2 separate regions of the Homo sapiens genome follow, and region 1 is linked to region 2. The links come from fine-mapping of genetic effects on gene expression. A gene starts in region 2. The other region holds a variant in brackets. All regions are shown on one strand. Distances are between the middles of the regions.

Region 1 (4,390 bases), 160 kb before region 2:
TGATACACACAACATGGATGAATCTCAAAATAATTATTGTGTGATAAGCCAGACAAAAAAGAGCAAATATCGTATAATTCCATTTATATAAATTCTAGGCTGGGCATGGTGGCTCATGCCTGTAATCCCAGTACTTTTCGGGGCATAAGCTGGTGGATCACCTAAGGTCGGGAGTTTGAGACCAGCCTGGCCAACATTAGTGAAACCCCGTCTCTACTAAAAACACAAAAATTATCCGGGCATGGTGCCACGTGCTTGTAATCCCAGCTACTCAGGAGGCTGAGGCAGGAGAATCGCTCGAACCCAGGAGGCAGAGGTTGCAGTGAGCTGAGATCGCACTACTGAACTCCTGCCTGGGTGACAAAGTGAGACTCCATCTCAAAAAAAAAAAAAATTCTAGAAAACACCAACTAATCTGTATTGAAAGAAAGCATATCAGTGTTGGAGCGTTGGCTAGGGAATGAGGAATGGGTGGGGAAGATCAAGAGGGAGGCATTGCCAAGGGGTCCAAGAAAACTTTGAGGGGGATGAAGATGTGTACTTTTTGAGATGATAGTTTTGCTGGTGTATACATCTATCAAACTATATACTTTAAATATGTGCAGCTTATTGTCTGTCAGTTACACCCCCAACAAAGTTGCTTTTTTTAAAAAAAAGGCGGTGGGGGGGTCGGGTGCGGTGGCTCAGGCCTGTAATCCCAGCACTCTGGGAGGCGGGGGCGGGTGGATCACCTGAGGTCAGGAGTTCGAGACCAGCCTGACCAATATGGTGAAACCCTGTCACTACTAAAACTACAAAAATTAGCTGAACATAGTGGCATGCGCCTATAGTCCCAGCTACTCGGGAGGCTGAGACAGGAGAATTGGTTGAACTTGGGAGGCGGAGATTGCAGTGAGCCGAGATCGCACCACTGCACTCCAGCCTGGGCAACAGAGTGAGATTCAGTCTCAAAACAAAACAAACAAACAAACAAACAATCTGTTGCCAGTTTCCTAGGAATGCTCTGGGCTTATTCTCTGCATTTTCCCACCCTGCCTCTCCCCTCCTCCCCCTCTCCTCTCCACAAAAGGGAACACATCACACAGGCTGTACTGCTCCTTACTTTGTCAGTCTCTGGTGTGTTTTAGGCTTATTCCATATCAGCACACAGGCTTTGCCTCATTCTTTTTGGTGGCTGTGTAGTTCTGACCTCAGTGCTCTAAAGCCATGCATTTAAGTGATTTGTCCTCTGCTTGTTCAGCTCTGAAATTTGTCATTACGCAGGCTTAACCCTGTATCAGTTAGGAGCCGCTTTTCTATTCCACCCTCTTATTGTTAATATGTGAGTCCAAGAGATTATGAGTTAATTGAGGGCAGGGACTCACATATCCACATCTCTATCTTCCACCAAAAAATAATGTTCTGCTCTGCAAATAGCAAATACAAAAAGCACAGCACAAAGTTCGCATCCAGCAGGCTTCATCCCAGCAGAATAAGCGAGAGGGACTCAGCACCAGTCAGTCCCATTTTGGTTAGTGAGAAGGTGGTGCCTTAGGGAAGAACACTGCATACTTCGAAGGCTGCTCTAGGGTCTGTAATCACAGCCCTCTGTGTTTGGGTTCATTCACACGGTGTTTATCTTCTGGGATTTGCTCCACAACACCCTTCAGGAAGGGTTTTGAAGGTTGTGGAAAAATCAGTGTGTGCAGCCAACAAAAGGGCAACAAGCCAATTGTGGTTATACAGGGCTGTTTTAAGAGTCAAGTCATGTTTGGGATGGGGGTGGGGTGCACAGTCTTGTATCAAGCATTTTCTGTAGCAGAGCTCAATCAGCATCTACAAGGCAGGGCTGGGCCACTCCTGCCTCTGAGCCTGTCTTCAGTAGTGGGTGCCTTTGTAACGAGCCAGCCTGTCCCCGGACCCAGGCAGAGTGACAAAACAGCTACACATTCATGAAGAACACTGGCTGTCTCCATAACAACCACGGTTAACATGACTCTGTAGAACTATGGGCGTGGCCCTTGGGTCTCCTGGCCTGGCTACCAACATGCCTGTGGCTTCTCA[T/C]TGGGCCCCGTGAGTGCTGGCAGGGCTGTGAAGCAGGTGTGACTAATGGGTCAGCTCCCCGCTGGGACTGTGACCCTGAAGCTAACAAACCTAAGGGCAAGGCCAGGCGCAGCAGCTTTCTGAGTCTCTTCTGAAGTGGCTTGAAGTCGATACTGTGTGTGTATGTAAGATCTAGCCTGAAGGAAGGCGCTTTGTTCAGTTGCTAACTTATTTTCTTGGTGGTAAGCTTTAGATATCACTTAGCTTTTATGTTTGCTTGTTTTGTTACAGATTAAGTAGCTGTCATAAGAAAAAGGACTATTTACTTACTATCTGGAGTCTTGTTCTGTTTGATACCCCTAGGCACATGTTCAATTCAGAGATAAGAGCCCTGGAAGTTATAGATTGCAAACAGTTTTTTCCCTGAAAACAAAACTGACATATTTATATACAATGATAAATACATAGATAGACTAATGATCAGTTTATGGATATTTGGCAATATGCCTCTCAATAATCATCACATTATTCATAATGTTTATAAATTCATAAATATAAGCGCACATTACAGCAACTTATTAACAATGTTCTATAAGCCAGAAAAGCACCATGAATACAAAATAAATTATTATAGTTCCTGAACAGTACTTTTACCTGCTAAATATTTTGTGGCCTTCAACAGCTCAGCCAGACAGTCAAAAGGAGAGCAACTTAGCAGAAGATTTTGGTCTAGCTGAGGATTCAGATCACTGAAGAACTTAAGTTTAGGCTGTTAAACAAAATTATGGGAGCCCGTTATTTTGGACTGAACTCCTGTACTAGGCCCCAACAGACGAGACCAAACCAAAATGGAGTCATTCATGCTAAATGCCTCGTCATCAAATAGAAGCTTTAAGGAAGCAGATAGATCCAACATAGACTAGTTTTTCTTGAGAACAGAAGATTCCAGTCTACCTGTGTCAGTGCAATAAGGAAGTCCTCTCTGCTTTAATTTTTACACAAAAAGTAACCTCATGTTAGCCAATCCGACTTTAAAATTTTTTTTTTCCTATTTCCTTGTTCTCACCTTACAAAACCCACTGTTCTGCTGCTGTCCAGCAGGAACCCTCATGCTGTTTTGTAGAATGGAAGCTGCCCTGATTCATGAATTGCAAATAAAAGCCAATTAGATCTATAACTATATTTGTTGGAATTTTGTCTTTTGACAAGACCAACTGGACCTTCCCTTTCTTGGTTAAAATCTGCAAGACTCTTCTTCCTTGGTCACACTGGACAATTGGCTTGTTAGAGCTGCAGTCAGGGGAACCTGGGAGAGACTCACCTTGCGAAGAAGACAAAGGCCACGGTGCTAATGGTGGTGGTGCAGGTATCCTGAGATGGCCAGAGCTCAGAGAAGTTCATGTCAAGAGGTGACAAGCCACAGTGAATTTACGGAATTTTTGTTTCTATGTTTATGGAAATTTATGTGTGCACTCATGCCGTGTTATGGACTGAATTGTGTCCTCCCAAAATGCATATGTTGAAACCCTAACGTCTAAAGTGACAGTATTTTGAGGTAGGGCCTCTGAGGAAGTAATTAAGGTTAAAGAGGTTATAAGAGTGGGGCCCTAGTGATGAGATTTGTGCCCCTGTAAGAAGAGACACCAGCCCTCACTATCTCTCCCTGTCCCTCTCTCTTTCTGTCTGTCTTTCTGCCATGTAAGGACACACAAAGAAGGCAGCCACCTGCAAGCCAGGAAGAGAGCCCTCACCAGGGACCAAAATGGCCAGTGCCTTGATTTTGGACTTCAGCCTCCAGGAGAGTAAGAAATAAATTTCTGTTTCTTAAGCCACCTAATCTGTGATATTTTGTTATGGCCATTTGAACTGACTCAGACAGCCAGGATCACTTATTTAGTTGTTCATTAATTTATTGATCCATTCAAGAAATTCAACAACTCTCTATTGAGTGCTTTATGTACCAGGCACTGTTTTTGGAGGTCAGGATGCATCAGTGACAGAAGACAAAAAGATTCCTACATTGTAAGCTTACCTGTAGGGACAGTAAACAATCAACATTAGAAGTAACTAAATCTGTGGTGATGATACTATACATTTTGTGATGTACCTTAACAGTACATAAATGTCTTTTACACCCATTATTGCATCTGACCTGGCAGACCCCGGGAGGTATGAGGAAATGAAGCCCACTCTCCAGGTCACATGGCTGGTACCAATTATAGTAGTAGCTAATAAGTATTTAGCTGCTTATTATGTGCTAGGAGCTGTTCTATGTGTGTGTTAACTCATTGAATCCTAGCAACAATTCTAGAAGTTGTTTTCTACAATAAAGGCACAGAGAAGTAATTTGTTCAAGGTCAGCTGGGTG
Region 2 (4,390 bases):
GGAAGAGGTAACATGTCAAATGGTGATGGAGAAAGACATCAGGGACCAGGCATGGTGGCTCACACCTGTAATCCCTGCACACTGGGAGCCTGAGGCAGTGGACTGCTTGAGCCCAGGAGTTCGAGACCAGCCTGGGCAACCCAGGGAGACCCTAGGTGCATGCATGACGGTGCACACCGGTGGTCCCAGCGACTTGGGAGCCTGAGGTGGGAGGATCGCTTGGGCCCAGGAGGTTGACGCTGCAGTGTGCCATGATTGCACCACTGAACTACAGCCTGGGAGATAGAGTGAGACCCTGTCTCCAAAAACAAAACAAACAAAAACAAACAAACAAACAAAAAACAAAAAACAAAAAACCCAGTTAATAGGGTTGCTAAAAAGCAAAAAAGAAAAGGCAAAAACTGTTCCTGAACCTTCTGGCTCTTCCTGGATCTACCATTACCAGTGGAAGAATTCTGAATAATTCTTACTGAGATTGAAAGAGACACAAAGAATGAGTTGTGCCCTCTAGTTCTTAAAACCTTGTTTAATTCTACATCCCACGGTGTATGAAAATAAGCTTGCTCCTACAGAAAAGAGGTAATATAGAATGATACATAATCAGTACACTAGTAGTACCATATATAATCAGGGTAATATCAAAGGCCTAAAAAATTGATTATAAAAATAAATTCTCTCACCTGATCACAATTTTCTTCTACTTTGCTACAAACTTATTTTCTGGTAATAGGCCCTTTTGGCATTAGATGCAACAGAATCGATGAGTCAATTTAAATCGTTTTTTTTCCCAGTCTCTAAGCGAATGGTTGCATAAAGTCGTCTCCTTCACTAAAAGGGGAGTGTATGTAGGAACGTGATCATAAATTTTTCTTTTGGGGTGAAAGTATTTTGGAACTAGATAGAGGTGATGGTTGCACGACACTGTGAATGTCTTAAATGGCACTGAATTGTACCCTTTAAAAGGACTAATTTTATGTTATGTGGATTTTCCTTCCACTAAAAAACTGAACGGTGCGGCCGGAACACTGAGCTCAGTGAATTCTCTAAGTAATCAATGGTTGCACTCTGGTGCCCTCTGAGTGTTTGACCTTTCACCCAGAAAAGGCTGTAAACTCACTCTGGGAAATCATCTTTTGTCCTAAGAGCCTAGGCTTGCTAGAGGCACAGAGGGAGTTTCAAAGGCCTCAATCACCCAGGACACCGGCAAGTAACGCTTTGCGCGCCGCGGCCGTGACCTCGGCAGGAGCCGGGGGCTTTGTTGTCGCTGTGCTCGCCCTCTGCGAACGCTGTCGCCCCGACACAGCGGTCCTTCGGACAGCCTGGTCCCTCCCCACCCCACGCACCTCCAGGCTAGGACTCCGGGCCACCACCGGGAACCCCCGCCACCGGGCACGTTCAGCCTCTGCTTAACCGGAACGGCCGAACAGCGCAGGCCGGCAGGAGTGTGGAGGCGATCGGCCCCCGGGGACGCCCACCCCCGGGATCCCCTCCGGCCCGCACGCGGTTGCCGCGCGGCCTGACGGGAAACGTAGTTTCCGGGGCCAAGAGAGCAGCCCCGCCCGGGACTTGTTTATCGTTGCAAAGAGGGGCCGGAGGCGAAGGAGGCGGCGAGGCTGTGCGGCGGGTCGGAGCGACGCCGAGGTCTGACGTGTCCGCGTCCCTGCGGCCCCACTCCCGGCCGCCGTGACCTCCCCTTGCACGGGGCGGACACGAGCAATGTCACGGGCCCCGCCGCGCGCCGCGAGCACTCACCAGGGTGAGGGCTGCCCGGGTGGGCTGCAGCTTCCTCTTGCTCACAGCCCGGACAGTTGCCCGGACTAAGGAAGCCGACATCTTCGCCGTCCCGGCGCCCCGGTGCCTCGGGCCGAAGGTCGGCCGCCTCAGCTTCTCTCCATGGACACGGCGGGCGCATTGACGCCACAAGCTTCGGCGCACGGCGCCCTCAGTCCTAGCCCCGCCCCCCGCCGCCACCATTGGGTGAGTTGCATGAGTGACGAGCCGGGGGCGGGGCAAGCCGCTCGGGGCGGGGTTTTGCCGCTCAACGCCGGGGGTCTAGCAGCTGGGTTGCGCACGGTCTCCGGCAGTGGGGTTACCACGCTGCAGGGCGCAGGGCCCGGGAGGAATGTCTTCACCGCCGAGGACGGAGTCGGCGTGACGTCGGGGAGCGGGCGGGAGGGGGCGAGGAATGACCTCAGACCTGCTGACTCCGGATGCACGTAGCTTCACCACCTGCCCCCGGGGCAAGGTGCAGCGTCACCCCCTGCTTTAATACTCACCGTGACAAACACCATCATAGGCGGTGACACTTAAGGACGCATAAGTCAACCCTGCACTGGGAGCTTATGCTCTCAAATGCAGAGTGATCGTTCCGATGCCCAGACATCTACATCCATTTTCATTCTTCTTTTGTGGTCCAATTAGGCTGTTCTTAAGAGCATGGCGTTACCGCAGAGTTGTATAATCGCCACCCTCCACCCTTCTCCCCAGCGTGCTGTACTGCTGGGGATGCTGAAGGGTGGTGACTAATGCAGTTTTCATTCTGGTGCTGAACTGGGAACCAACCCTACTTGAAAATGTGACTGGGCAGCAGTGTGAATAGTCACATTTATAGCGAGCAACAATTACTCGATTTAAAACGTGTTGTCAGACCTTGTCCTGGCTGCTCAGGGGCTTAATTCTGCCTTTTGATGCAGTATTCCTGAGCACCAGACACTGCACAGGCGCGGTACCCAGGCATACACAGGAAGCCAGGTAAAGAGGGGCCAGGGAAGAATGAGATACTGGCAGGACAGGGCTAGCAGATGAAGAGAGGAGGACATCAAGACAGGTGGCATTTGTCATTGAAGTGCTAGAAGTGAAGGAAAAAGGGCAGGAGGGGTCTATGAAGCAGTCCTGGGGAGGACAGATTCGCAGTGTTTGAATGTGGGAAGAACTAATCAGTGAAACATTTTTTAAAGCCAAGTTTATCTTCGATCTCCTGCAGTTTCTGAAAGGATAGTTCAAAATTCCATCAAGTAGTTCTGACTTCCTGCTACAGAAATGCAATCGCATTGACAATAAGAGGACGCTTTTTTTTTTCCCCTAAGCCTTATCTGCACATAAACTGGGGGCCGGGCGCGTGGCTCACGCCTGTAATCCCAGCACTTTGGGAGGCCGAGGCGGGGAGATCACCTGAGGTCAGGAGTTCGAGACCAGGTTGGCCAACATGGTGAGACCCCATCTCTGCTAAAAATACAAAAATTAGCCGGGTGTGGTGGTGCACACCTGTTATCCTAGCTACTCAGGAGGCTGAGGCAGGAGAATCGCTTGAACCTGGGAGGCGGAGGTTGCAGTGAGCTGAGATCGTGCCACTGCACTCCCAGCCTGGGCAACGGAGTGAGACTCTGTCTCAAAAAAAAAAAGAAAGAACGGAAGATAGGAAGAGAGAGACAGACAGACAGATAGAAAGAAGAAAGAAAGAGAGAGAAAGAAAGAAAATAAAAGAAACTGGGGGCCGGGCGCAGTGGCTCACACGTGTAATCCCAGCACTTTGGGAGGCCGGAGGCCGGCAGATTACTTGAGATAAGGAGTTCTAGACCAGCCTGGCCAACATGGTGAAACCCCGTCTCTACTAAAAATACAAAAATTAGCCGGGCGTGTTTGCGGGCACCTGTAATCCCAGCTACCCAGGAGGCGGAGGTTGCAGTGAGCCAAGATTGCGCCACTGCACCCCAGCCTGGGTGACAGAGCGAGACTGCATCTCGAAAGAAAGAAACTGAAAAAGTGATGGGAGGGAGGAAGGGAGGGAGGGAGGGACATAGAGAGGTGGTGGTGTGGTGGGTTTGTTTCTTGGCCTTCATCTTTGACTACCTGGGGGTTTGGGATCTCATATCCTCCCTCCTACAGATATTGTGAAGATTAAATGAGTTAATACAGGAGAAGCCCTTAGAGGGGTGCAAGGCACACAGCCTCACTCAAATGGTAATTGTTAATGAGTATTTAAAGATGCCATGTATTGTGAAACTACTATAATGGTGGATAGATATCATTATGCGTTTGTCAAAACCCACACAATGTACACCACCAAGAGTGAACCCTAAGGTAAACTATGGGCACTGAGAGCTAATGATGTGTCCATGTAGGTTTAAGATTGTAACAAGTGTACCACTGTGGTGCAGAGTGACAGTGAGGCACATGTGGAAACAAGGGATATATGCAGTTCTGTTTTTCTGCTTAACTTTGCTGTGAACCTAAAACAGCCCTAAAATTAAAATTTAATAAAAATAAAAGATGCTGTCATTTTTTTTTCAGTTATTGACACATTACACAGTTGTGCAGCACTTTACAAGATTCAGAAAACTCCATGAGCATATTATATTATCTCATACTAGCCTCACAACTTTGAACTGAG

Alleles and levels. Alleles are on the strand shown, and positions count from the first base shown. SD is a standard deviation of normalised expression in the study named.
In carriers of allele C in region 1, the expression in monocytes after LPS of the gene that starts at base 1,913 in region 2 tends to be lower than with T alone (large effect, 1.0 SD a copy in Fairfax 2014).

What was found. PIP is the estimated chance that this variant, and not a neighbour inherited with it, causes the effect. A credible set is the group of variants that fine-mapping cannot tell apart.
Region 1: its variant is the best candidate, but not a certain one, in a credible set for the expression of ISCA1 in monocytes after LPS (Fairfax 2014, PIP 0.50).

Annotation. Positions count from the first base shown.
Region 1 is chr9:86,125,505-86,129,894 of GRCh38, forward strand. LOC101927623 (a long non-coding RNA gene) reads left to right here and starts at 2,036. Exons shown (of 5, transcript NR_110996.1): 1 at 2,036-3,577; 2 at 3,726-3,824. The variant T/C (reference allele first, on the strand shown) is at 2,044.
Region 2 is chr9:86,280,626-86,285,015 of GRCh38, forward strand. ISCA1 (iron-sulfur cluster assembly 1) reads right to left here and starts at 1,913. Exons shown (of 4, transcript NM_030940.4): 1 at 1,753-1,913. The coding sequence starts at 1,833. LOC124902194 (a long non-coding RNA gene) reads right to left here and starts at 1,456. Exons shown (of 2, transcript XR_007061634.1): 1 at 1,344-1,456; 2 at 1-828. RefSeq lists a silencer at 1,294-1,593 and enhancers at 1,764-1,913, 2,034-2,313.